Regions from separate parts of the Homo sapiens genome. Here region 2 is linked to region 1. A link means that fine-mapping ties the variant in region 1 to the expression of a gene that starts in the linked region. Tissue or cell type: whole blood. Region 1 holds a variant in brackets; the other region holds the start of a gene. All regions are shown on one strand. Distances are from middle to middle. Region 1 overlaps CREBBP (CREB binding lysine acetyltransferase). Region 2 holds the start of CREBBP (CREB binding lysine acetyltransferase).

What was found. PIP is the estimated chance that this variant, and not a neighbour inherited with it, causes the effect.
Region 2: it holds the start of CREBBP, and the variant in region 1 is fine-mapped to the expression of CREBBP in whole blood (TOPMed, PIP above 0.99).

What each region holds. Positions count from the first base shown.
Region 1 is chr16:3,853,567-3,862,445 of GRCh38, reverse strand. The region is part of intron 1 of CREBBP (CREB binding lysine acetyltransferase); the gene reads left to right. Among named protein-coding and RNA genes, the nearest start is that of CREBBP, 23 kb to the left of the region's middle. RefSeq lists a silencer at 2,375-2,559. The variant G/A (reference allele first, on the strand shown) is at 4,932.
Region 2 is chr16:3,876,626-3,885,504 of GRCh38, reverse strand. It overlaps CREBBP (CREB binding lysine acetyltransferase), which reads left to right and starts at 4,792. Exons shown (of 31, transcript NM_004380.3): 1 at 4,792-5,673. The coding sequence starts at 5,589. RefSeq lists silencers at 4,317-4,866, 4,887-4,936, 5,274-5,583, 5,624-5,673, 5,754-5,803 and an enhancer at 4,537-5,113.

The DNA of each region.
Region 1 (8,879 bases):
TTGTGTCACTGCACTCCAGCCTGGGCGACAGAGCAAGCCTGCCTACCGTAGTGAGGCCCTTCCCACCGTATGGAACTTGTACCTACCCTGGGGCTCCTGCCATCTTGGAGCTTTTCCCTTGAAGTTCCCCACAGCAGAGCAGCCATCTCTGCCTGCCTGTCTTGCTGTCTTCTGTCCCTGCCTCTTTGGAGTTGTCAGTGTCCTTTTCCTCTAAACTTCTGCTCAGAGCCTCTTATTTGAAGCCTTTCCTACTTTTGTTCACTGCCTTATTCCACTTGGCTGTAAAATATGACATACGTGTTAATTTAAGTTTGTGGCTTGGTGTCCATTGGCTGTCTTCCTCAATTAGAGTACAGTCCTCTGGGGAGGCCGACTTCTATTCTATCTCAAACCCAGCCGGTCCTGCACCGAGTGAGGGCCCCTGAGCAGTGACTCGCTTCCTTCTCCTGGGGAGGAGAGGGTGGGGGCTGCCGGCCGAGCTCTCTGGCTCTTCAGCAGATCAGTGATTCTGAGGAGGGGCAAGACTTACTCAAGATAAGATCACTGTTCAGAATGAAGTACAACCTCATTGTTCTGTTCTAATTAGGGATTGGTGTGTCTGCATAAAAGAAGCCTGAATTACGGAAGATTTTAGAAGGAGGTTGCTTTAATTATTTCCTAATAGTCATTGTAAAAAAAAAAAAAAAAGTTAGATGTCTTTTGGGAACTTGTTTAAATGCCTAGATAAAAATTACTTACGATGGCATAAATATTAATAAAACAGCTTTTCTCTTTCTTTTTTTTTTTTTTTTTTGGTATAGAGAGTTGTTCCATTATATTTATTTGCATAATCCCCAAGAACTTTCAAAGCAAAGTAACCTTTAATTCTACTAGAATTGCCACAGATCAGCAGGGATGAGTTTATTAGCAAGTCACTACCATTGATAAGTGGCGGCTGTTGAGCGCCTGCTCTGTACCAACCCTGGAGTGCCAGGTTCTTAAAGGCTTTGGCTGGTTCAGCCCTCATAGGTGCCTTGGGAGATGGGATTGGGACAGTGATAGTAATGACTAATATTTTTTGAGTCCTTACTGCATGCCAAGCTCAGTGCTAAATGCTGTATGGTTTAATTCTTTCATCAACGATCCTGCGAAGCAGGTGCTACTGTCCTTTATTTTATTTTATTTATTTATTTTTTTGGGACAGAGTTTTGCCCTTGTTGCCCAGGCTGGAGTGCAATGGCGCGATCTCGGCTCACTGCAACCTCCCAGTGATTCTCCTGCCTCAGCTTCCCGAGTAGCTGGGGTTATAGGCACCTGCCACCACGCCCAGCTAATTTTTTGTAATTTTCAGTATTTTTAGTAGAGACAGGGTTTCACCATGTTGGCTAGGCTGGTTTCGAACTCCTGACCATAGGTGACCCACCTGTCTGCCTCCCAAAGTGCTGGGATTACAGGCATGAGCCACTGCACCCAGCTGTCCTTCCATTTTAGAGCTAAGGAGGGGTACACAGGGAGGCAGTAGCTGTGGTGACAGCTGTGATCTGAACCAGGGCTTGGTTGAGTACTCTTCTCACTACACCAGACTGCACTTCCTGTGTCCGTAGTGTCTAATTAGTAATAGATCAGTAAACACACCGAGAGCGTAGTGTGGCCTCCAGGTCATTTAACAATAATAATAACAACACTGTGAATCCTTCCACCACTCTCTAGATTCCTCATCTCTAGGAGTGAACTTTTCCAGGATGCTTTGCCCTTGCTGGATCAAGTTTTTTGTATGTAGTTTTTTTCCTTCAAATTTTGTTTTAATTAACAAATAAAAATTGTATGTATTTATCATATACAACATGATGTTTTGAAATATCTATACATTGTGGATTGGCTAAATTGAGCCAATTAACATGTGCATTACCTCTTCCTGTGTCCGTTAACTTAGAAATTAAAAATTCTTTTTGGAGCCACAGTGGCACATGCCAGCAGTCTTGGCTACTTGGGAGGCTGAGGCAGGAGGATTGCTTGAGTCCAGGAGTTTAGGAGTTTGAGGCTACAGTGAGCCATGATCACACTTGTGAATGGCCACTGCACTCCAGCCTGGGCAACACAGACCCCATCTCTTAAAAAAAATTCCTTTTGGAAGTTTTTCGAGGGTAGGTAAATAGGTGAATAAAAATGTTTAGCTTTTGAAAGATTTAATAGAAGCATTTGAGTAGTCAGGGCTATAGTACAAGTCTGAGGATGTAGGGAAAAATCAGGTTTCTCCTATACTCCTTTATTCCTATACTCAGTGTCAACAGTCGACACAGAACACCTCTGGGACCAGATTTGTGGAGATGCCCCCAGCCACACACACACACCGAGTAGGCACTCGGTGCTGCAGCAGACGCCAGCTGACAGGCAGATGGTGTCAGATCCCACGGTTGAGGGCTCAGTCCTCAAGACTGCCCCCGCCCCCCACCATTTGCAAGCCCCAAGTTGTTTTACCTGTGCTTCTGACTGGCTATAAATGGGGTTCCCACAAGCCCCTCCTTGGGTTCAATTAATTTACTAGAGCGGTTGACAGAGCTCAAGGAAACATGTTTACTGGTTTTTTATTGTAAAGGATATTATGAAGGATACCACTGAATATCAGGTGATAGGGCAAGGCGTGTGAGAGGGCCATGTAGCCTTTTTGCCCCGTCCAGGTGTGCCACTCTTCAGGAACCTCCATGTGTTCAGCTATCTGGAAGCTCTCTGAACCCTGTACTTGTGAGTTTTTATGGAGGCTTCATTACATAGGCATGATTGATTAAACCATTGGCCGTTGGTGATCAACTTAAGCTTTAGTATCTCTCCCTTCCCTGGAAATTAAGGATGGGCTGAAAGTCCCAGTCCTCTAATCAGTCATGCCTTGGTCTTCCTGGTGACCAGCTCCTGTCCGAAGCTACCTAGGAGCTGCCAGCCATCAGTCAATTCGTGAGCATACGAAAAGACATTACTGGTTGGGTGTGGTGGCTCACACCTATAATCCCAGCAATTTGTGAGGCCGAGGCGGATGGATCACCTGAGGTTGGGAGTTCTAGACCATTCTGGCCAACATGGTGAAACCCCGTCTCTGCTGAAAATACAAAAAATTAGCCGGGTGTGGTGGTATGCGCCTGTAATCCCAGCTACTTGGGAGGCTGAGGCAGAAGAATTGTTTGAATCCGGGAAGTAGAGGCTGCAGTGAGCCAAGATCGTGCCACTGCACTCTAGCCTAGGCGACAGAGCCAAAAAAAAATAAAAATAAAAAAATAAAAAATAAAAATTCTATTTTGGAGATTCCAAGGATTTTAGGAGTTGTATGCCAGGAGACAGGGTGGAAGACCAAATACATAGTCACAGTATTACAAAAGTAATGCAAAAGACAATCTAAAGAAACCATGAAAAAAAAATCTAAAGAAAGGAGACCTTTTTCACAGGAAATAGGGATGTGAGAGAGAAATTAGGAGTGGGTGAGGAAGAGAAAATATGTGTGGGAGGGAAAGCAGAGAAGTATGAACACATCACAAAACAGCATCTGAACTCTTACATGCTTATTTCTTACACTACTGTTGCTCATCCTACATTATGCCATTTAATCTGTGTATCAATTCTAGGGTTGGGGTTCATTGATGCTGAGTTTGTAGCCAAAGAGTGAAATATACTTGGGTGGTCCCCTAAAAGGTAAAGAGGGCAATAGGAAAAAGTCTTAAAGAGAAAGATGACCCAGTGTAATATTTCTAGAGAATTCGTTATTGTTTCTGTTTTCAGAAAGTAGTAGTAAACATTAAGATTACTGCTTTATATCTTTGACTAGACAAGCAGCTTGTTGATACTGTGTATCCTCTATAATGTGAGCACTCATTCAGCACGTGGGTTTATTGAGTGCCTAGTACATACGAAGCATTTTATGCTAGGCACTGAGTAGATAAGCAAGACAGGATCCCTGCTTTCAGGGAGCTTACAGCCCCACGCACGTTATAACGTGAAATTGTTAGCATAATTTTAACGCATTGTGTCTGTAGGAGCATAAAAGAGTTCTTATTTCCAGGAGAAGGTGTGATAGACCAGTCCTGTCAGTACAAATAATCTGGGGCTCCAAGTGGAATTCAAAGAAGAAAATAAGGTATTATGGAAGAGGAGGCTGTAGAAAACCTGAAGAAAGGTGTGTTTTGTGGATACTTTGGCTGATGGCTTTGAAATTTTTTTCAGATGAGGCTGTTTTCAAATGTTATTGGCTGCACAGATTGATTTAGCCACCCACCTGGTGTTTGATTCTAGTAGTTCATTCCTTGCTTAAGGTGAAATGCTGATTTCTGATCATCATTATTAAGAATGGATCCTGGAACAGATGTAGGTACCATTTGTCTTTCAGTGTTTAGGAGTGATCCCCACCTAACAGTCTGCATGCAGACCACCGGCTTGGGTTTCCTAGTATAGAAGTGAATGTCCTCTGTACCTTGCTTGGTAAACAGTTGCCTTTCCTGAGGCTGGCTGAGTTTGGCTGTAACTTTCTCCTTCCTAAGTCCCTACTATTTTCCTCATTCCTCACTGGGTCTTCCCAGCCTCGTATGAGTGTGATAGAAATGGGGAAATGTGTAGCCTCTCTTTTCTCTCATTTCAGCTTAATGAAAGGGGTAGCCTCCTGGTTGGCAGCCAGGAAGCTGCAAAAGGGAAAATTCCTTTCCCTAGCTATGGAAGTATGACAGGCAGTGTTCGCTATTTGATATCGGCTGGTGAAGTTTCCTTGAGGTGCAAATGCTCTGGGTGCAGGGTGCCCACAGTCTCCTTTTCTTTGCATTCTCCCGGGCCCCCTGGTAACGGTCAGAGAGAAGAGGGCTTACCTGGGACTGGATCGCTGTCAATCGTGAACCTTAGGAACTTCCGATGATACAGATTGCTCTTGCTTAACCCATGTGTTGGGACACTTTGGTGTGTAGAAAGCAAAGCTGTGTTGT[G/A]TTGCAATATCCTGGCCTGCCTCCTTCACTCCCCTTTGTCAGTTTTGCTGAACTAGGGAATATGGAAATGTGGTGACAGTGGTAAACAGAAGGGTGATGGTACGACTACGTGTGCGCCCTATCTTGCCTTTTAAAAAGCCACACCTGTATATTTGGTTTTACACATATTCATATGGTGAATTACAGAAGAAGAATTTGTCTAACTCTGCCTTCACCCAAACAGCTGGTATATGTATTTGGACTGAAATAGGATGAAAAAGTGGTCACGGTGGTCAGAGTGTAGCAGACCAGTGAAAAACAAAAACACTAGCCCAGGACATAAGCCCTGCTTACAACTTTGAAACTTGCCTGTGAATTTGATAAGAACTAGAATAAACCATAAATGAAAACTGATAGCTCTGAGAGTGGCAGGATGATGGGTGAAGTTTTTAACTCTGGGGCGTTGGTACCCTTGTTTTACAGGTGAGGGTATGAAGATGCAGAGATGAAGCAGTTTGCCTAAGGATGCAGGATTTCAACTCCTGTGCTCAGCTTCCAGCTGTTCTGTTCCCATTGTTCTACACTGAGGCCAGCCCTGCCCTGGGTTTCACTAAGTACTCTCTGAGTTTATCTGCTCTTCTGTGGCCTGGCCTCCCTCTCCTAGGAAGAGTGCTTAGGGATGTTCAAAATAGCCAGTTAGGTCGCCTTTTGCAGATTTTTCCAAACTTAAATATAAAATATTTGGCCCTTGTTTGCTTCTGGGTTACAGTGCTTGACACGGTCTCTTCATCCTCGCCCTGGACAGAAAGGAAGGAGAGCTGATCTCTAATGGTAATGGCTCCAGTTCCTGGTTTAGATGAAGTTTCATTTTCATGCTCATCAGTTAAGGAACACTGCATTTTTAAAAGTAGTTATTTTGGGCTGCAGTGGCTCATGCCTGTAATCCCAGTGCTTTGGGAGACTGAAGTAGGAGTATTTCTTGAGGCCAGGAGTTTGAGACCAGCCTGGGCAACATAGCAAGACCCCATCTCTACAAAAAAAAATTTTTTTAATTAGCTGGCAAGCCTGGGAAACATGGCGAAACCCTGTCTCTCCAAAACAGTACAAAAATCAGGTGGGTGTTTTGGTGCAGGGCGGAAGCTGCATTGAGCCTGCAACTTCACTGCACTCCAGCCTGGGTGCCGGAGCAAGACCCTGTCAAAATAATTATTTAATTAATTCATTAATTAAAAATAAAATAAAAAATGAGCTGTTTGTGGTGGGGCACACCTGTGGTCCCAGCTATAGGGGGCTGAAGCGGGAGAATTGGTTGAGTCCAGGAGTTTGAGGATACAGTGAGCTGTGATTGTGCCATTGCACAGAGGTGACAGAGCAAGACCCTATCTCTAAAACATAAAATAAAAAATAAAATGTTGTTATTTGGGGGGGTACATATTTTCTTTTTTCCTTTTATTTGTAGTTGACATGTGATTGTATATATTAAGGGGTTACAGAATATTTTGTAACATGCATGCAATGCATAATGAGCAAATCATAGTAATTAGGATATCTACCACCTCAAACGTTTATCATTTGGGTTGGACAAAAATATTTATTAAGGAGTACCGAGTAAATTTGTGTGTGCAGGTGGACAAAGCCTGGAGGGCAACAAACAAAACAGTAGTTATGATAGAGAGGACTTTTTAATACATATTTAATAAATATTGTACAGTTTGTGTCTGGACACCTCAGTGAATCTCCAAATTTAGGATAGCAAAATAGCGTAAAAACTATGGATTGGAACCCTCAGAAGCATGTTGAGACCTATTTCACCAGGTACAGGCCCTGTGCCCTCATGGAACTGTCTGCTGTATCCGGGATCAGATTCCTTTCTCTTCAAAATGACATGCCCTGTAACCATGAGGAGGTACCCCAAATTGAAGGACCTTCTACAATAACAACTGGCCTCTATTCTTCAAAAATGTCAGTTATGGCCGGGTGCAATGGCTCACGCCTGTAATCCTAGCACTTTGGGAGGCTTAGGCGGGCGGATCACCTGAGGTCAGAAGTTCGAAACCAGCCTGGCCAACGTGGCGAAACCCCGTCTCTACTAAAAATACAAACGTTAGCCGGGTGCGGTGGTGCACGCCTGTAATCCCAGCTATTCTGGCTGAGGTTGGAGAATTGCTTGAACCCGGGAGGCAAAGGTTGCAGTGAGCCTGGATCGTGCCACTGCACTCCATCTAGCGTGGGCAACAGAGCAAGACTCTGTCTAATAAACAAATAAGAATAAAATGTCACTTACGAAAGACAAAGGCCAGGGAACCTTTGATCCTTTTTCGATTAAACAAGGTGACAAAGACATGACAATTAAATGCACCATGATCCTGAATTAGATCTTGGATCTTGTAATCTCATGGCTATAGGACATGTCATTTTGAAGAGACAGATGTGTGATAAAGATCATTATTGGGACAACCAGCAAAATTTGAGTAAGGGCAGTATATTCAGTATTGTATCAGTGTTACATTTCCTGAGTTGCACATGCATACTGTGATTATGTAAGAGGATGTTGTTAGGAGATACGTACTGAAGTACTTAGGAGAACAGTGTTATTTCGTCTGCAACTTACTCTCAGTCTCGGTTTTTCTTCAAAAACTGTTACATGCATGTACACACTCCTAAATCACATCTCATTCCTTACAGACAGGTGGGAAGATAACAAGTGTGTGTTAGACGTGGTTTTCTAGACTGACAAGAGGGACTGGTCTGTTCTGCAGGGGCAGCCCAAAGAAAGTCTTCATAGTTGCTGTGTTTAATCTGAGTGGGAACTGAGGTGAGTTTTAGAATGAGAGATTCAAGAAGAAAGATTCCCAATGCCTGTGCCAGCTCTCAGTGTTGTGGCTGGAAAGTAGGGGGCATCTGGTGTTGTCCTGTAAAGGAAGGCCAAGAAGATAGCCTCACGTGCCATGAGAAGGTGTTTGAACTTCTTCCATAGACATGATGGGTCTGTTAGGGTTAGGGTGAGGTTAAACTCCAGCTAAAATGGCTTAAGTGATAGTAAGTGTATTTTCTCACATAACATGAAGTTTGAAGGTGGGGAAGTACTAGGGTTGCATCACTCAGCAGTTCAGAGATGATCTCCCCACCCCAGGTGTTTATGTTTTTGGCTACAGCCATCCTTAGCATGCAAGTGGTGTCTGCTCTCCTGGCTACAGGGTGATTGTCACCTGCCCATGACGAGATCTGGTGAAGAAGAGGAGGGAGATTTCTTTCTGAGCATCCATTGCTGTGAGGAAGGAACACCTTTTCCACAATGGTCCTGGTTCAGTGTACCTTCAGATTCCCTTAGCTGAGATTGTGTCACTTGCAAAGGGGAACGTGATCGTGGTGGTGGGCTTATCTGGTTACTCTCCCTCCTGTGGCCAGGGAACGTTCCTCAGAGGAACCTCCCAGGCAGCCACTTCAGATCATGTGGGTGTTGCCAGCAGCATGGGGCCAGGGGTATTGGGTGAGCAGACATTAGGGTCTGCCACCATGCAGAAAAAAGGTTTTAATTTTCTTTTCTTTTTCGTGTGTGTGTGTGTGTGTGTGTTTGTTTGTTTGTTTGTTTGTTTTTGAGACGGAGTTTCGCTCTTGTTGCCCAGGCTGGAGTGCAATGGCGATATCTCAGTTCACTGCAACTTCCACCTCCCAGGTTCAAGCGACTCTCCTGCCTCAGCCTCTCGAGTAGCTGCAATTACAGGCGCCTGCCACCACGCCCAGCTCATTTTTGTGTTTTTAGTAGAGATAGGGCTTCGCCATATTAGCCAGGCTGGTCTTGAACTCCTGACCTCAGATCGTCTGCCTGCCTTGGCCTCCCAAAGTGCTGGGATTACAGGCATGAGCTACCGTGCCTGGCCGATGTATGGTGTTTTTTGTTTGTTTGTTTTTTTGAGATGGAGTCTCACTCTGTTTCCCAGGCTGTCATCCAGGCTGGAGTGCAGTGGC
Region 2 (8,879 bases), 23 kb before region 1:
CGAGTAAATGGGTGCAGCACACCAGCATGGCACATGTATAGATATGTAACTAACCTGCACATTGTGCACATGTACCCTAACACTTAAAGTATAATTAAAAAAAAAAAAAAGCAACAGCAAGTCCCCCACGAGAGGGGCGGGTGCAGCCTCCCATGTGGACGGCAGAGAGAGGAGAGGGGCCTCTCACCCTTGAGCGCCTGCTTCCCACTGCCCCAAATAGCAGCTATATGGTGCCTTGGTGTGCCAGGGACCCTGTGCACCCTCCATCTCATCTCCACCGCACCTCAACTGTCTCAGCAGGTGAGGAGGTATTTGTTTTTTTTTTTCTTTTTTTGTTTTTTTGAGATGGAGTTTTGCTCCTGTTACCGAGGCTAGAGTGCAATGGTGCAATCTTGGCTCACCACAACCTCCGCCTCCTGGGTTCAGGCAATTATCCTGCCTCAGCCTCCCGAGTAGCTGGGATTACAGGCATGCACCTCCAAGGCCGGCTAATTTTGTATTTTTAGTAGAGATGGAGTTTCTCCATGTTGGTCAGGCAGGTCTCGAACTCCCAACCTCAGGTGATCTGCCCGCCTTGGCCTCCTAAAGTGCTGGGATTACAGGTGTGAGCCACCACACCTGGCCGAGGTATTTGTTTTCAAAACAGCTAAGAAAAAGCAGTAGGTTTGGGACTTGAACCTAGCTCTGTCTGGATCCCTCCACACCACCAGACCACATTCTGCCTTCTGTCCACCAGGAACTGGCTGGAATCCTGCCTTCCTGGGACTACTCCCCCAGGCCTCTGCCCCCCAACCCCGGGACTCCCACCCCTGGGGGATCAGTTATTATGATTTTGTGCTATTCTGACTTGGATTCTCTGCTTATCTTTTCAATGTGTGTCCTGTTTGTGTTTTTCTCCCCAATGCTGTTCTGCATCGCTTGAAGGCAAAGTCCAAACCTGATGCTATCTTTTAATCTATTTAAGCCTAGAAAGGGACAATCAATATCAAATTGCAACAATTCCATTTCTTTTTTTTTTTTTTTTTTTTTTTGTGAGACGAAGTTTCATTCTTGTTGCCCAGGCTGGAGTGCGATCTTGGCTCACTGCAACCTCCGCCTCCCGGGTTCAAGCAATTCTGCCTCAGCCTCCCAAGTAGCTGGGATTACAGGTGCCCCCCCACCATGCCCAGCCATTTATTTGTACTTTTAGTAGAGATAGGGTTTCACCTTATTGGCCAGGCTGGTCTCGAACTCCTGACCTCAAGTGATCCACTCACCTTAGCCTCCCAAAGTGCTAGGATTACAGGCGTGAGCCGCCGCATCCAGCCAACAATTCCAATTCCATTTCTTTCTCTTTCTTTTCTTTTCTTTTCTTTTTTTTTAGACAGTATCTCACTGTTGCCCAGACTGGAGTGCAGTGGTTTGATCATAGCTCACTGCAGCCTCAACCTCCTGAGCTCCAGTGATCCTATTGCCTTGGTCTCCCAGGCAGCTGGGACTACAGGTGCATGCCACCACGCCCAGTTCACTTTTTAACATTTTGTTGTAGAGATGAGGGTCTCACTGTTGCCCAGGCTGGTCTCAAACTCCTGGGCTCTAGAGATCCTTCCACCTCGGCCTCCTAAAGTGCCGGGATTACAGGCATGAGCCATCATGCCCAGTCCTTTGATTGTTTTTTAATGTGGTATCTGAGACTGGAGAGGGTGAGGTTTGTGGAAAGAGCAGGAAGCCTTAGGTGTGCACCGGAGTGAAGCCCCTTCGTGGCTGGGTGGCTTGTCCTCCTTTGTGCCTTATTTCTTCATCTGTGAAATGAGGACAATTTTTCCTTCCAGGATTGTAGGAAGTGCTATCCATGGGAGGCATGGCAGAGCGGCCTGGTATCCCTAAGGCACTCACTTGTTGAAGGTGATCCCCAGCTAAGTGAGTGCAGGCAGGAGCCACGCTTCCCTCCTTGCTATTCCCCCATCAGTGTCTGAGCTCAGGGTTCTTTGAGTCAGACTGAAGGGAGAAGAAATCGAAAGGAAAGAAAAAACAGGTATCAGTGAATACCAGAATTGATCAAAATGATACAGGTGAGAACAATGAGACAGAAAAAGGGACTGCAGAGCCGGTATATTTTGAGGGTGGAACATGGTGAGACAGGAAGACTAGGGTCTTTGGAGAGTGAGGACATGGGTTCCAGGCCCAGACTTGCCATGTCCGGGTTATTTACTTCTGAGTCCTTGCGACTGAGTTCCCTTGCTTTCCTCTGTAAAATGGAAACCTGTCAGGGAATGGCTCAAGCTCCTGTGCCCACTTCTGTGTAAACCACTCACCAATGGACCCCTGGGGGGCTGCATGGTGTCTCCACTGCCCCAAGGCAGGCCCTAAGACCTCTAGGTGGCTGGACACCTTGTCCCGTTTGAAGAGTGGCCTGGAGCCACCTCAGGCTGGGGCCCACCCTTTTCAGTGGCCTGAAGGCCTCTAGGACTCAGAGCACCTGACACAGCTCATCACTCATTCAGTTTTACAAACCTACTTCTTCTTGCAGAGCACTGTTTCTGTGACTAAGACACCATCTTTGCCCCGAAGGAGCTCACAGACCCTTGGTGAGACGGACACCCAGAGCATTCAGATACAGGGTGTGGCCTGCCCTGTGCCACTGATACACTTCTTGCCATTCCTGTGCAAACTGACTTCTTGAATACTTCCATTTATGGCTTCCAGGGTGTGCTATTTTAACTCCTTGAATATATGGGGATCTCTTTATGTTTGGCCAAGGGGATTAGCACAGTCTCAATGCCCTTGGGATTCTCAAGAGCTATTTGATGCATAAGTAAAAACATGAACTAATTCGGGGGCAGTGGAGGCGGGGAAGATGGGGCAGGATGTGTTATGTGTTCTCTCACAGAGCCCAGAAGTGATATGGGAGCCGAGGAGTGGGCTAGGAGGGCTTCCTGGAGTAGGTGACATTTGAACTGGGTTCTGGAGGATGAGTTAGAATTTGCCAGGCATGTCTTCTCAGCACAGGGACCAGCATTTGAAAAAAAAAAAAAAAAAGCCTGAATGATGTGAACTGCCTACTGGCCAAGTGGGTGTAGGATGATGATGGTGAAGTGAGCCATGTAAAGTAGAAGAGACAGATTCAAGAGCGGTATCACGGCCCAAGATTTTGAGCAGTACAGGTAAACAGAGAAAAGCAGAACGATCACTCAATCTTGACACTCAAGGACAGTCACCATATGTACATACACCTATGTTTTTAAGAGAATTCATACGTGTTCTTTTTTAAAGAAAGACTATGTAGTGTTTTCTTTTTCTATGTCTGGGATTTTGTTTTGTTTTGTTTTGTTTTTGAGACGGAGTTTCACTCTTGTCGCCCAGGATGGAGTGCAATGGCGAGATCCCGGCTTACTGGCCTCCCCAGTTCAAGTGATTCTCGCATCTCAGCCTCCCGAGTAGCTGGGATTACAGGCGCACGCCGCCACGCCCAGCTAATGTTTGTATTTTTGGTAGAGATGGGGTTTCACCATGTTGGCCAGGCTGGTCTTGAACTCCTGACCTCAGGTGATCTGCCACCGCGCCTGGCCAGGGAGTTGTTTTAAACAGATTTTCTCCCTCTCTTTTCGGGATGTTAACTCTGGTGCTGCGTGGGGAGCAACGTGGAGAGCAAAGAACACTTAAGTGAGTAGCTGCCACCATAGCCACCGGGACAGTGCGGGAGGAGCAGTCTCCCAGGTAAAGACCGTGGGTAGAGGGGCGCGTGGCGGGTGAGAGGGAGGAGTCCGCGCTGACTCACGGGTTTCTGGCTTAGGAAACAGTGGAGCTGCTGATACCTTTATGAGGAAGCCGGGCAAGTTTGGAGGGGCAGATAACTAACTGGGATGGGAACACCTCGGGTATTCGTAGAAGTGTCCCGCGGGCTGTGGTCTCGCGTGGGGGACTCCCCAGGCCCGCACCCCTGTCTGGGGCACCTGCGAGGCGCCAGGCAAGTTGCCTGGGGCGGGGAGTGCGGCCTGAGCGTCCAGGCTTAAGCCCCGATGCGCGGGCCCTTCTCCGCCCAGGCCGGCCCTCGCCACCCCGCTCTCACAGGTGAGGGTGTCTGCCCTGCCGCCTTGGGATGCGAACAGGCGTGAGGCCCCCTCACTCCCTAGTGTCACGAGGTAGGGCGGGACCCGAATCCCGGCCCTGCCACTTCCTGCCTCGACCACTTTGGAGCAGTTGCTCGCCCCCCGCCTCAGTTTCCCCATCCGCCCACCTCGTCGGCAGGACCCAAGGGCGGTCTGTAACCTGCAGAGGCCATTCCACTTCCCTGGCCGGCGGCGAAGGCTAGTGGCGCGGCCTGGGCTGGGGTCGCCCCGACCGTTCCCGACCGACGCCACCTAGGAGGGTCTGGGGAAGGGGACGCGAGGAGCTGGGAACACGCAGCGCCGCCCCAGCGGGACGGGCGGGCCCGGGCTGGCGTCGAATCCGCGCCCGAGAGCCCAGCCCGCGGCCAGGCCGCCGCTCCCGGAGCCCGCTGGGGCCCGGAGCCCCGGCCCTCTACGCCTGGTCGCCATCAGAACAAAAGCTGTGGCTCAGCCCGGAGCCCAGGCGCCCCGCAGGCCTGGCCCGCGCCGGGCCGCCAGCTTCCCTACGCTTGGCGGCCGCGCCTTCAGCCCTTCGGCCCGAGCACGCTCGGCTCTTTCCGCCACGGCCGGCGCAGGTGGAGGGGGCGGGGCGGGGGCCGTGCGTGGTGACGCCGCGGGGGGGTGACGCACCGGCGTGCCCCGCCCCCACCCCCTCCCCGTTCAGGCTCTGGAAAGAGAAGAAAAAAAACTTTCTTTTTTTTTTAATTGAGGAATCAACAGCCGCCATCTTGTCGCGGACCCGACCGGGGCTTCGAGCGCGATCTACTCGGCCCCGCCGGTCCCGGGCCCCACAACCGCCCGCGCACCCCGCTCCGCCCGGCCGGCCCGCTCCGCCCGGCCCTCGGCGCCCGCCCCGGCGGCCCCGCTCGCCTCTCGGCTCGGCCTCCCGGAGCCCGGCGGCGGCGGCGGCGGCAGCGGCGGCGGCGGCGGCGGAACGGGGGGTGGGGGGGCCGCGGCGGCGGCGGCGACCCCGCTCGGCGCATTGTTTTTCCTCACGGCGGCGGCGGCGGCGGGCCGCGGGCCGGGAGCGGAGCCCGGAGCCCCCTCGTCGTCGGGCCGCGAGCGAATTCATTAAGTGGGGCGCGGGGGGGGAGCGAGGCGGCGGCGGCGGCGGCACCATGTTCTCGGGGACTGCCTGAGCCGCCCGGCCGGGCGCCGTCGCTGCCAGCCGGGCCCGGGGGGGCGGCCGGGCCGCCGGGGCGCCCCCACCGCGGAGTGTCGCGCTCGGGAGGCGGGCAGGGGATGAGGGGGCCGCGGCCGGCGGCGGCGGCGGCGGCCGGGGGCGGGCGGTGAGCGCTGCGGGGCGCTGTTGCTGTGGCTGAGATTTGGCCGCCGCCTCCCCCACCCGGCCTGCGCCCTCCCTCTCCCTCGGCGCCCGCCCGCCCGCTCGCGGCCCGCGCTCGCTCCTCTCCCTCGCAGCCGGCAGGGCCCCCGACCCCCGTCCGGGCCCTCGCCGGCCCGGCCGCCCGTGCCCGGGGCTGTTTTCGCGAGCAGGTGAAAATGGCTGAGAACTTGCTGGACGGACCGCCCAACCCCAAAAGAGCCAAACTCAGCTCGCCCGGTTTCTCGGCGAATGACAGCACAGGTGAGGAGGGGGTCCGGGGCGGCGGGGGCCCGGGGCGCGCTGTCACCCCCACCTGAAAGAGAGCGTCCGGGGGTCGTGGTCGCGGATACCGATCGAGCCGGGAGCTCGGAGCAGGCCCCGCAGCCCGTTCCCCTCGCCCCGCGCGGGAGGGTGGAAGTTCGTCGCAGGACTGTCACTGGGCCCGAGTTGGTCAGCACACGCCCGGTGCACTCGGCCTCCCCGCACCCGATCAGCCCTCCTCGCGGGGACCCTAGTGGCACTCCAGGAGGGAAGAAGTAAAGTGCAGCGTGTGGGTTTGTTTGGTAATGTCCTACGCATCCATCCGCGGCCGTGTCCACACGCGTGGCCGTCCAGAGGAATGACAGCGGAGGGTACCTTTGATGCTTAGAGAAAGCAAGATCGCGGCCAAAGGTAGGGCAGTGTGTTTTCTGGATTGGCGACACATTGACCAGGCTGCATTCAGAGGACACTCACAGCAGCCGCCAGCTTGCGAGTTAGAACCGAAGTTTCTTGGAATGAGTGAGTTCCTTGGAAAGATGCTTAGTGCTTATTTTCAAAACTCCTTGTTTTGTGTGTGTGTGTGTGTGTGTGTGTGTGCGCGCGTGTGTGTTTTTAGTCAACTAGTCATTCCATTTTTCAAAACCCAAACTTCGTTAGCAAGATGTCATGAAAGTTGCTGTGGTGTGTTTCATTTCCATGTATAACTTCAAAAGAAAGTTAAACAGCAGGTTTAAGTTCATTTGGGCTGCAATCTCCATTTGAGTTTGTGTTGCTTTCACAGTGTAGATGTACAAAGAATTAAGGAATGTAGGAATTCCAATTTTTCAAAAAAATGGAGCAGGATACTGAATAAATCATCTTTTTGTTTGTTTCCTTTCATTAAACGGCTTCCCTGGAAACTTTCTTAAGTTATCATAGCTGCTTAAGAGAAGTATTTAGTTTTCTATTAATTCAGTAATTCTGGGTCCCACTGCGCTGGTTCATGGTAACATGAACTAGTTGTATTTCCTCTTTTAGAGCTCTCTCCTTTGCCGCAAAAACTTGTGTGCCGCTGCGAACAATTCCATCTCCAGCGCAGCTTGCATTTCTCCAGTAGTCTTGCAGTGGTAGCATCTGAAAATCAGTTTCTAATGAATGAGTCCAAATTGAATTACATCGCTGCCTTCAGATTTGCACTAGACACAGCTGTTCAACTTGTGGAAATAGTTCTGTGACCGACCACTAGCATATTAAAAAAAACTGCTATTGCTGTTGAAACAAAACCTGAATTTTGTGGCTTAAGTTTGAATACAATTCCTGGAATCAAGTTATGATAAGCGACGTTTAATATTAATGTAGAAGTGAAAAGCGATTTTTAAAGATCAATCATAAGGAGATTCTTATCTAGTTAAAATTTGTTAAACAGTGGGGAGGAGTAAATGATGCTCATGGTATATAAAAATCACTAATGCTTTTCTTTTTAGCTGATAAAAGTTGAGTTTGACGTTAATCTTATAAAATGAACTTATTGAAGTGAGAAATTTGGAAACAGTAGTTTAAATGCCGTTGTACTGCAAAACAGATCTCCGTTGCTTCATTAATCTTGCTGTGTTTGAGTAGTCTTCAGTTCTGTGAGACGTAGGTCATACGTGGCGAGTTCAGCTTTGAAGCTTGTCTTCTGAAACTGGTAACCTGGATGGCTTTGTAGCTTTGCTGTTGTTGAATGAATTTGTTGTAGATTTTGTCTTAAAAAGGGGGACAATTAGTAACACAAGACTTAACAAAAAGGCATGTCCTTATATGTACATCCAGCTGTTTCCAAGATGGAGCCCAAAGGTTAGCTTTTTCCATAGTAGTGTCCATTATTGGATGATCAGATGCTTAATAAGTTGATCAGAAAGGATTTTCCACACTTAACCACCTTTTCCCCCTTCCTTTACAATTTTGATCCTTGTAAGGCACAGGGGCTCTTTCGTGGGACCAAAAGTCAGCTTTAAATGGCTCCGATTTAATCCAAAGTAGAAAGTCAACATCATACTTAAGTTGGGTCATGTGTTACACATTCATCACCATCACACTATTGTGAAAGGGTCTGTTAGTATGGGGGACCAAGGAAGGGCTCATTATCAAGCACATTAAACAAGGGGCTGCTGGGCGCCATGGCTCATGCCTGTAATCCCAGCACTTTGGGAGGCGGAGGCTGGTGGATCAACTTCAGGTCAGGAGTTCAAGACCAGCCTGGCCAACATGGGGAAACCCCATCTGTACTCAAAATACAAAAACATAGCCAGGCATGGTGACATGCACCTGTAATTCCAGCTACTTGAGAGGCTGAGGCATGACAATTGCTTGAACTCGGGAGGCAGAGGTTGCAGTGAGCCAAGATCGCGCCACTGCACTCCAGCCTGGGTAATGGAGTGAGACGCTGTCTCCAAAAGAAACGAGGGACACTTTGTCTGTTGTAACTGCTCCACTAAGAAATTGAGTAATGAGATGGACAGAGATCTTAGGGATGTATTTTAAACAAATAAATGGCTTGAGTTTTTACATTAAATACATTCAAAAACTGAAGGCATTTGGTTAGGTGGGACAGACCTGAGAATAACATTCTTGAGGAACTCAATCTTATTTTAGTGACGGGATGTGTCTCTGAGGCTCCCAGGGGAAAATTGGGCCTAGTGGAGCAGGGTGTGTGCCCGGTGCATGTGATCAAATTTGAGGGAGGGGACCTCTGTCTAGGAGCTGAGGGGTTGAAAGGAGGAGGAGCCCTTGGCAGCCTGAGAAACAGGATCTACTTGGACTGCAGTGCATGTCTGTAGAGACTGGCCTGTGGGGCCACCAGTGTCACTTAGATGTGTCTGTGAAGGGTGGCAGTGAGCTGAGAGAAAAATGCACCCGACATTGGGGAGCTGCTCAGCCAGGGTGCTGCTCATCTGGGGGCATGGATGTTGCAAACAGCACTCCCGAAGGTCATGCAGCACCTCAGAGTGATGAATGTCACTGCCACTGATGACAAACAAGTTGCCGAAGCCTGGGAAGCTTATGCAGAGATGATGCAGAAATACGGAATGTGCTGCGAATGAGGGTAGCAAGAGAGAAACGGTACCTTTCACCCCACTGAAGCAGCAGCCCTGGAGAGGCACAGAATTTGATGGCCTCAGATGTTAAAGTAGCATTTTCTTGTATTATGTAGAAGCCTTTACACTTTCTCATACATGAGGTCTTCC